Regions from separate parts of the Homo sapiens genome. Here region 2 is linked to region 1. A link means that fine-mapping ties the variant in region 1 to the expression of a gene that starts in the linked region. Tissue or cell type: tibial nerve. Region 1 holds a variant in brackets; the other region holds the start of a gene. All regions are shown on one strand. Distances are between the middles of the regions.

Evidence for each region. PIP is the estimated chance that this variant, and not a neighbour inherited with it, causes the effect. A credible set is the group of variants that fine-mapping cannot tell apart.
Region 2: it holds the start of S100A13, and the variant in region 1 is the best candidate, but not a certain one, in a credible set for the expression of S100A13 in tibial nerve (GTEx, PIP 0.53).

The regions. Positions count from the first base shown.
Region 1 is chr1:153,603,583-153,607,705 of GRCh38, forward strand. It overlaps S100A16 (S100 calcium binding protein A16), which reads right to left. Exons shown (of 3, transcript NM_080388.3): 3 at 3,304-4,110. The coding sequence ends at 3,952. Among named protein-coding and RNA genes, the nearest start is that of S100A16, 7.5 kb to the right of the region's middle. RefSeq lists an enhancer at 1,448-2,403. The variant G/A (reference allele first, on the strand shown) is at 2,086.
Region 2 is chr1:153,625,696-153,629,818 of GRCh38, forward strand. It overlaps S100A13 (S100 calcium binding protein A13), which reads right to left and starts at 1,810. Exons shown (of 3, transcript NM_001024211.2): 1 at 1,788-1,810; 2 at 625-838. The coding sequence starts at 777. It overlaps S100A1 (S100 calcium binding protein A1), which reads left to right and starts at 2,739. Exons shown (of 3, transcript NM_006271.2): 1 at 2,739-2,801. RefSeq lists enhancers at 1,232-2,057, 2,884-3,707.

The DNA.
Region 1 (4,123 bases):
CCTGGCCTCCCACACTCCTTCTTCCTTGCACCTCTACTTCTCCATCCCACAACTTCTGTCTGTATCGGGATAGTCTACTAATGAGAATTCAGAGCCTCAGTGCCACTCATGGCTCAAGACTAAGGGTCATGGGGGTTCCCTCTCTTGGCTTTGGAGCCCCCCTCCCTCTGTCTCTGTATAGGGGAGCTTCTTCCTTCTCCCTTCCTTCTTGTCCCTCTTGCCTATTAAACTCTCCGCTCCTTAAAACCACTCCACGTGTGTCCATGTCGTTTTATCTAAACTGGCATGAGCACCAAGAACCCTGGTGTTCCTCCACTCATCAGAGCCGTATCATTTTAGTGCGTTGGCCAGGAAAGGAAATTCGTTCATCAGACTGAGTCAAGGAAACTTATTTTAAGCTATTTGTGGCCTTTAATAATTGAGTAAGGTGTACTCCTATGAACAAAATTTGGAGCATGTTTATTTCTCTGCCTGGTTCCTCTAGAATTTGGAAACTATCTGAATCAAGCTTGACAAGCAGAGCCAATAAAAGCCGCTTTGGGAGAACTGGCCTCATACCTTGTCTACACAGTCTCTGGACAGGGTTCCTAATCTGTAGTCAGTAAAGAATGTCATTTTTTAACACGTCTGGGAGCTCCGAGTTTATCTTGGGACCTCAAGAGGAGAGGATCACCCAACTAACAGGTATTTGAGGTTTGTATCCTCAAATACAAACTTTAGGCTTTAATAGTCTTATCTGAAATTCCTTGTGAAACAGAGTTTCATCAAAGCCAATCAAAAGGCCTGTGTACAAATAACCATTCTTGCTGCACTTTATGCAAATAATCAGGGCAAGTATAAGACTACAGTTTATTCATAACTTGTTTTTACCAAGAACGAGGACTAGAGAGAAAAATTGTGCTCCAAAGCTTATCATACATTTTTTTGTTTTTTGTTTTTGTTTTCAAGCTTTTCGCCTACATTTTAGACTAACCCTGCTTATTCCTGTGAATCAAGCAGTGATCTCCTGCAGCTTGGAAGAAAAATTAAGGGATGGGTAATATAAAATCTGAATCAATATATTAGTTCTGGGCAATTATTCTGCAAATTCTACCAGGTAATAAAAGTGAGTAGGGTGCCCATAACCCAGAGGTTTCTTCGTTTAGGAAAATAAAACCAAGGAACTTCATAGACCCCCAAAGGGGAATTCTATATCTTGACAGGTAAAAGTTTAGATGGAAATTATCTACCACACCACACTTATGGAAATAGCTATACTCACTCTATTATTTGCAATAGGATTATACATGGTAGCACCTTCTAACTGAAATATTAAACAGAGAGTTTCCATTGCTGTCATATTTTGCTTAATCATTATCCTTATAGCAGGGATAATAGCTACTAATGAAAAGGAAGCATAAAAGTTTTACTACCACTGAATCTGCTAGGACTTTTTATTGGGTTTAGTGATGCAGTTTTCAATGAAACATGCTGCTTTCGGATTAATGCCTCTAGTTAAAAGAAAATCTACAAGTACTTAAAAATCAAATCAAAATTATTGATCCCCGAGTGGCTACAATGCCTCTTTAATAAATTCCAGTCTTCTTTATGGAATTGGTTAACCCCTTTATTAAGCCCTCTCTTGCTTATGTGTCTTGTATTGATATTTGGACCCTGTATACACAATACTATAACTCAAATTGTTTCTTCTCATCTAGAAGCAATCAAACTCCAAATGGTGCTGTAAACAGAACCACACATAGACACATCATTCTTCTGAGGACCCTTAGATTGACCCCAGGAGGAGCCCTAGCTGCTCTTCCCCATTCGACGCCCTTTTGCAACAAGAAGTAGCCAGAAGGAGTCGTCGCCCAAAACTCCCTAACAGCAGTTAGTGTGGCATCTCCACAGGGGGGAATGTTGTAGGAGTTATTAAGAAATTATTTTAGGCAGATAGAGAGGAAAATGGGTCCTTGGGTCCTTGGGAAGTTTTTTGTTTTGTTTCTTTTTCTTTTTTTTTGAGACGGAGTTTTGCTCTTGTCGCCCAGGCTGGAGTGCAATGGTGCGATCTTGGCTCACCACAACCTCCGCCTCCTGGGTTCAAGC[G/A]ATTCTCTGGCCTCAGCCTCCCGAGTAGCTGGGATTACAGGCATGCGCCACCACGCCCGGCTAATTTTGTATTTTTAGTAGAGACGGGGTTTCTACATGTTGGTCAGGCTGGAGTTTTCATTTTTTTGAAGCATCTCCAGAAAAGTTTCTTGTAAAGCCCCGGCTCTTAGAGCCAGGTTGGCAACCTTTGATATGCAAATGCAAGCCCTTAGAAACTGGGTCCACCCAAACATGGTGATTCCCCCGGCCTTCTTGCCCTTTCCCCACATGTTCCTGGCAATGTGGCTGCCCTCACATATCCCCAGGTGTGTAGACCTGCATTTGCATATTAAAAGGCTAGGGTGGGGCAAGGTGCGGTGGCTCACGCCTGTAATCCCAACACTTTGGGAGGCCGAGGCGGGCGGATCACCTGAGGTCAGGAGTTCCAGACCAGCCTGACCAACATGGAGAAATCCCGTCTCTACTAAAAATACAACAAAAATAGCGGGGTATTGTGGCACATACCTGTATTCTCAACTACTCGGGAGGCTGAGGCAGGAGAATTGCTTGTACCCGGGAGGCGGAGCTTGCGGTGAGCCGAGATTGCACGCCATTGCACTCCAGCCTGGGCAACAAGAGTGAAACTCCATCTCAAAAAAAAAAAAAAAAAAAAAAAAGGCTAGGGTGTGAGGGCCAGCTTTTTCCGAGGGCTACGTGAATGACACGCATAGTCAAACCAATCCCCTGAGCCCTATACAAATCAGACTCCTCCTCCTCCAGCCTCTGTATATATACCTAGATGGTATCTGTGGCAGGTGGGGTTCCCTCTCTCAGCTTTGGGGCCTCCGTCCCTCTGTCTCTGTACAGGGGAGCTTCTTCCTTCTCCCTTCCGTCTTGCCCCTTCTTGCCTATTAAACTCTCCGCTCCAAAAAAAAAAAAAAAAAAAGACTAAGGGTCATGGTCCCTCTCTCGTGGAATTGCAGTGAGGACTAAACGGGACTTACAGTGTGCCTGGAAGTTGAATTTGAGTCTGAGTCTGGGCTAAAAGGGCCCAGAGATGGTGACCTAAGGCCTTTGGCCCTTTATGGAGGAGGATGGAGGGAGCTGCTGGCCCACAGCTGACAGTGCCTGTTGGAATTTAGGAGTTCTGGCTCCTTTCTTGCTCTGCCTTTGAGGTTCTTCTGTGAGATTCTCTCTTATCACAGGGCCCAAGGGCTAAGACCACCAAAGCATAAAACGTTTCCAAGGAGTGGGAAGGTTTTAATGAGCATCCCAGAGGGACCAGGGGATACAAACTCCAAATCCAGCCTTTATATCATCATTATTTCAAGCAACAGGAGGAGGCTCAGCCTTGCTTAGCTCATTCCCAGATGAAGAGGCAGCTGGAGGGAAGTCCCTGAAAGTGCCTCTCTACCCAGCAGAGGGGCTAAGGGAAAGTGGAGAGGTCTCTGCTGCTGCTGCTGCTGCTGCTGCTGCTGTTGCTGCTACCACTGCCACCAAGAGCAGGGAGACCTCAAGCACCAAGCTGACCTTTGGAGGTCAGGACGGACCCAGAATCAGGCAGGAATTTGGCAGGAACATCAGACATTGGAAGGTTAGATGAGACTGAACAGGTGAGAAAACTCTTAGGGTCCCCAGACAGCATTGAGATCTCACAGAGGGGCCCCAAGGGCCTGCGACTCCAGGAGCTGAGACCCCCCAGGGAGGGAGGTACCTCTAGACTGAGACACTCACAAAGGGACCCCAGTTCAGCAAGGGTCAGAGGAAGGTCTGGAGGGAGAAGAGAGTAAAGGGCCCTGGGTGGGCAGGAGGCTGAGGAGGGAGCCTGGGGAGAGCACCAGGGCGGGGCATCAGGCCAGTGCCTGGAAGGTGTGGCCAAAGGGGTCTCTAGCTGCTGCTCTGCTGCTCCTGCTCATGGATGAGTTTGGCGATGGGGCCGGTGATGCCGCCTATCAAGGTCCAGTACTCATCGAAGCTGATGCGCCCATCATGATTGGCATCCAGGTTCTGGATGAGCTTATCCGCAGCCTTCCGGTTCCCTGTGTCCTGGGGAGGAAGC
Region 2 (4,123 bases), 22 kb after region 1:
GCCAGCTCTGGGTCCAGTCCTGTCTTGGGGAAATTAGACCAGAAAGGCACAGAGCATACACAAGAACCCAACAGCATCTTCTGACACAAGACCATACTCCCACTGGCACATAGTATCTTTGCTTACCTAATTATATGCATGGACACACAAACACACACATGTACACACCAGGCAAGAAAACTCACAACCGGGTCAGGCGCAGTGGCTTGCGCCTGTAACCACAGCACTTTGGGAGGCCGAGGCGGGTGGATCACCTGAGGTCAGGAGTTCGAGACCAGCCTGGCCAACCTGGTGAAACCCTGTCTCTACTAAAAATACAGAAATAGGCTCGGCGTGGTGGCACACACCTGTAATCCCAGCTACTCAGGAGGCTGAGGCAGGAGAATCACTTGAACCCCGGAGATGGAGGTTGCAGTGAGCCAAGATCACACCACTGCACTCCGGCCTGGGCAACAGAGTGAGACTTTGTCTCGAAAAAACAAAAGAAAACCTGCAACCATTGACACATGCAGCCACCCACACCCTTTCTTGTGGTCACCTCACCGTACTCGGCACCATCACGTCCTAAACACAGTGTCCCATAATCATCATCTCACAAAATCTCAGTCCCAGACTTCTGCCTACCTTGAGCAGATGGGGCAACTGCTGGGTAACCAGCTCTTTGAACTCGTTGACGCTGAGGCTATCCTTCCGGCCCTCCTGCCTTGCAAAGGTGAAGAAGGTGGTGACCACGGTCTCAATGGACTCCTCTAGCTCTGTCAGTGGTTCTGCTGCCATTAGGACCCTGAGGCCAAAGCTGATGTCCTCAAGGGGCTAGCTGACCTTTGTCAGGGCTGACCTGTGGAAGAGAGAAGGAGCAGAGAGGGAGAGTCAGGGAGCCCCAAGATGCAGGAATGGTTCAGAAGGTCCCTGCCTTGGTGTTATCACATCAGTCTCAGCCTGGAGGGGGCATATGGGGAAAGAGGGAGAGGACAGGGGTTGAGCTTGGGGCAGCAGACCAGGCAACGGCATCTCAGTTTTGGTGGGGGCAGGAGATTCAGCTCCAGAAACCCCCTCTTCTGTAGGTCTCACAATCCGGGATCCTTTTTAAATGTCTGTGGCTTAGGGACCCCTCTGTGGTGATCCCTCGATCTGGAGACCCCTCTACTTGAGAGGAGGTCTTCAGTTGAAGGTCCTTCTTGGAGTCCTTCAAGTCTGGTGGCCCCTCTGTGGCGTGTCTGTCTCAAGAATCCCTTCTTGTCTCACCCAGACTCACAGGTCATAAGGTTGTTTGTCTCCAAAGCTTGTTTATGTTGGGCCCTGGTCTCCGGCCACTCGCATCCGCCCACACACACTCTAACCGCTCCTCCCAGCAGAGAAGCACAGGGTCTGGCAAATGTCCCCTGTGGTCAGAGCTGGCTCCGTCTGAACAGACCCATTTTCTCTGCCCCGCTCCACCCTTACCTCTCCTCAGCGGCAGCAGGGCAGAGTGCTGAACCCAGGACCCCACAGATCCTCCCCGCTCCTGTCTCCCGGTGACAAGGGTCCTGGAACGGGGCGTCTCTGACTCCCTGCTCCAGGACGGGTTTAGTACAGGCACTCACAACCCCCTGGGGTGCGGCGGGTGGGGCTGGAAGAGGCATTCTCTTTTCTGTCCACCCCGTCACACACTCCTGCACGCGCTGTTGCTCGATCATCCAAAGCTCCTTCCTGAATTCCTGTCTGAGCTGGCTCTGGGGGAGGGACCTGGGAGCCCAGGAAGAAAAAATGATCTCCAGCCTCCCTCCAGGGTCAGCCATGAGACTCACCCGGCAAGGAGATGGGGTAGAGTGAGCTGGAGCCTCAGGGCTGAGGTTTATAAGCAGCGGGGAAGGAGGAGAGAGCTGCTTCCAAGCCCGGAGGTGTCAAATTTCCGTGGTCGATTCTGAAGACCAGAGACAGCCCAATCAGGCCGCTTGCCCTGAGCCCTCAGGTCTGGACCCGGGCTCCCTGCCAGCCACACGAGCGCCCCCACTTGGTCAGGGAGAGGAGCTGCCTGGACAGATCTCGTTCGGCAGGGGTCCCAGGGTCCTAGTCCTCTCAATACTGGGGGCTGCTGCCACCATACCCATGTCTAATCAGGAGTGTGTATGCTGAGGGGGGAAGAGGGAGGCAACCAATCAAGGGAGCTCAACACTGAGAGGCCCAATCTGAGACACACACAGAGGCCCCTTGGAATGAGATCCCACAAAGGATGCTACAGACCAAGATCCCTCAGAGAACCCCAGGCTGAGGCCCCACACACAGAGGGGGATCCAGGTTGAGACCCCCAGAGAAGAGTCCTGGATTGAAATCCCTCTGTGGGTTCTCAGACTCCCAAGACTAAGTTTCTCACTGAGGGTCCTCTCAGTGAGGCCCCATGGAGGAGCCACAGACTAAGACCCCCTCAGCAGAATTCCCCCCTTACCGGGCTCAACCAGCACAGCCAGCCACAGGTACTGCAAGGCCCAGCTTGGGGTAAGACATCCAGTGTCCCTCCCAGGACCTCCTTCCCACCTCTTTCCCCTGCACCATCCACTGCTGCCTGGAGAGAAAGGAACGGGGCAAGCAAGGCTGGGAAAGAGACAAGGGCCGCCTGTTCCAGCCCAGGAGACAGAGGGCGCCTCTGTCTGCTCCTGGCCCCTTGCCCCACAGGGTGTTCGTCTGTGAAGGGGTGGAGTCGGTGGGGGGGTCAGCGGGGGAGGGACTGTTGAAGACAGGTCTCCACACACAGCTCCAGCAGCCACATTTGCAACCTTGGCCATCTGTCCAGAACCTGCTCCCACCTCAGGCCCAGGCCAACCGTGAGTACCCTGCCCCACTGGGCTAGTCCCTGGCCTGCCAGCTTCAGGGAGAGGGGTCTTCAGAAGGGCTCCAAGAGGCTGGGGACCATAGCACTGTGGAGCACTGAGGATCTGGGAGGAGTCAGTCAGGGTGAGGGCAGTTTGGGATTTGGGGGAGACAGGGTTTGGAAGGTGGTGATGAGAGACAAATGAACTGAAGGTCGGAGAGAGAGCTGGCAGCTCAGCAAAGGAGGAAGCCAGTGGGGAACCCACCATGAGCTTCCTGACCGCCTGGCCCTCCCACAGGGAGCCCTCAAGTCCCTGCCAAGGCCCCCTCTGTCTCCCAGGTGTTGGGAAGGGTCCCAGCCCTCCCCTGCCTCGCCTCCTGTGGGGTAAGAAGAGAGCAGATACAACAGCTGTTTCTGCCCCCACCTCTCCTGCCAGCCTTAGTCTCTGCCACCCCCACCCTGCCTTGCCAAGAGCTCAGGTCCCGGGGGAGTCTGGGGGTGGCAGGGCAAAGCTCCCATGATATGGGGAAGCAGAGATGTAGGGTGCTGTGCCCCTTCCCAACTCGACCTCCACAGGACCTCCCCTTTCTCCTCCTCCCATTTTTGGCCCAGACCTCTTGACTCCTCTTTCCCCCCATTCTTACCTCTTTGTTTCCCCATCTCCCCTGCCCCCAAGTCCTCTCAGAACTGCCACCACGTAAAATCCCAGGCTGCTTTAGGGCTCCAGGTGACCTCCAGCTGCCCCTCTGGCATGGAGCAGGTAATCAAGCTACCAGCACCCCTCCCTCAAGCACCCCTTATCCCCTCATCAGCCACAGCTTGGGTTCCATCTCCCCCATGTCTCTGTGACAACTGCTTCTCAGGTCCGGAGTTCAGATGACACTCACAAGGGCCCCATTGAAGAACTGGGATGTCATTCGATCAGGGGCCATTGTCCAGCCCCCTAGGCCTGGGGAAGGATGGGGACATCTGATCCGAGACACCTGAGCTGCCCCCTCTGGGGTTGTGGAAGGCCAGACTGTCCCAGGGCCAAGGGAAAGAGGCCCCCCGGCTTGGCAGTCTTCTCTCTCAACAGACCACTCCTTTCTCCTTTCTTCTCCTACTCTCTCCCAGCCCCTTGAACTCAAAGGACCGCATGCTTTCAGCCCTTTCTCTCCCCCAACACACAGCAGCCCCATTCCCCTTGCTCCCACTATCCCCGAATCAACCAGGAGTGAGCAGTTGCAGGGACAACGCCTGCAGGTCTCCTCTCCCACTCCCTGGGAACTCTGGCTCCAAGGAAAAGGCTCAGACATTCCTCTCTCCCCTTCTGCCACCCACCAGATGGAAGGGATA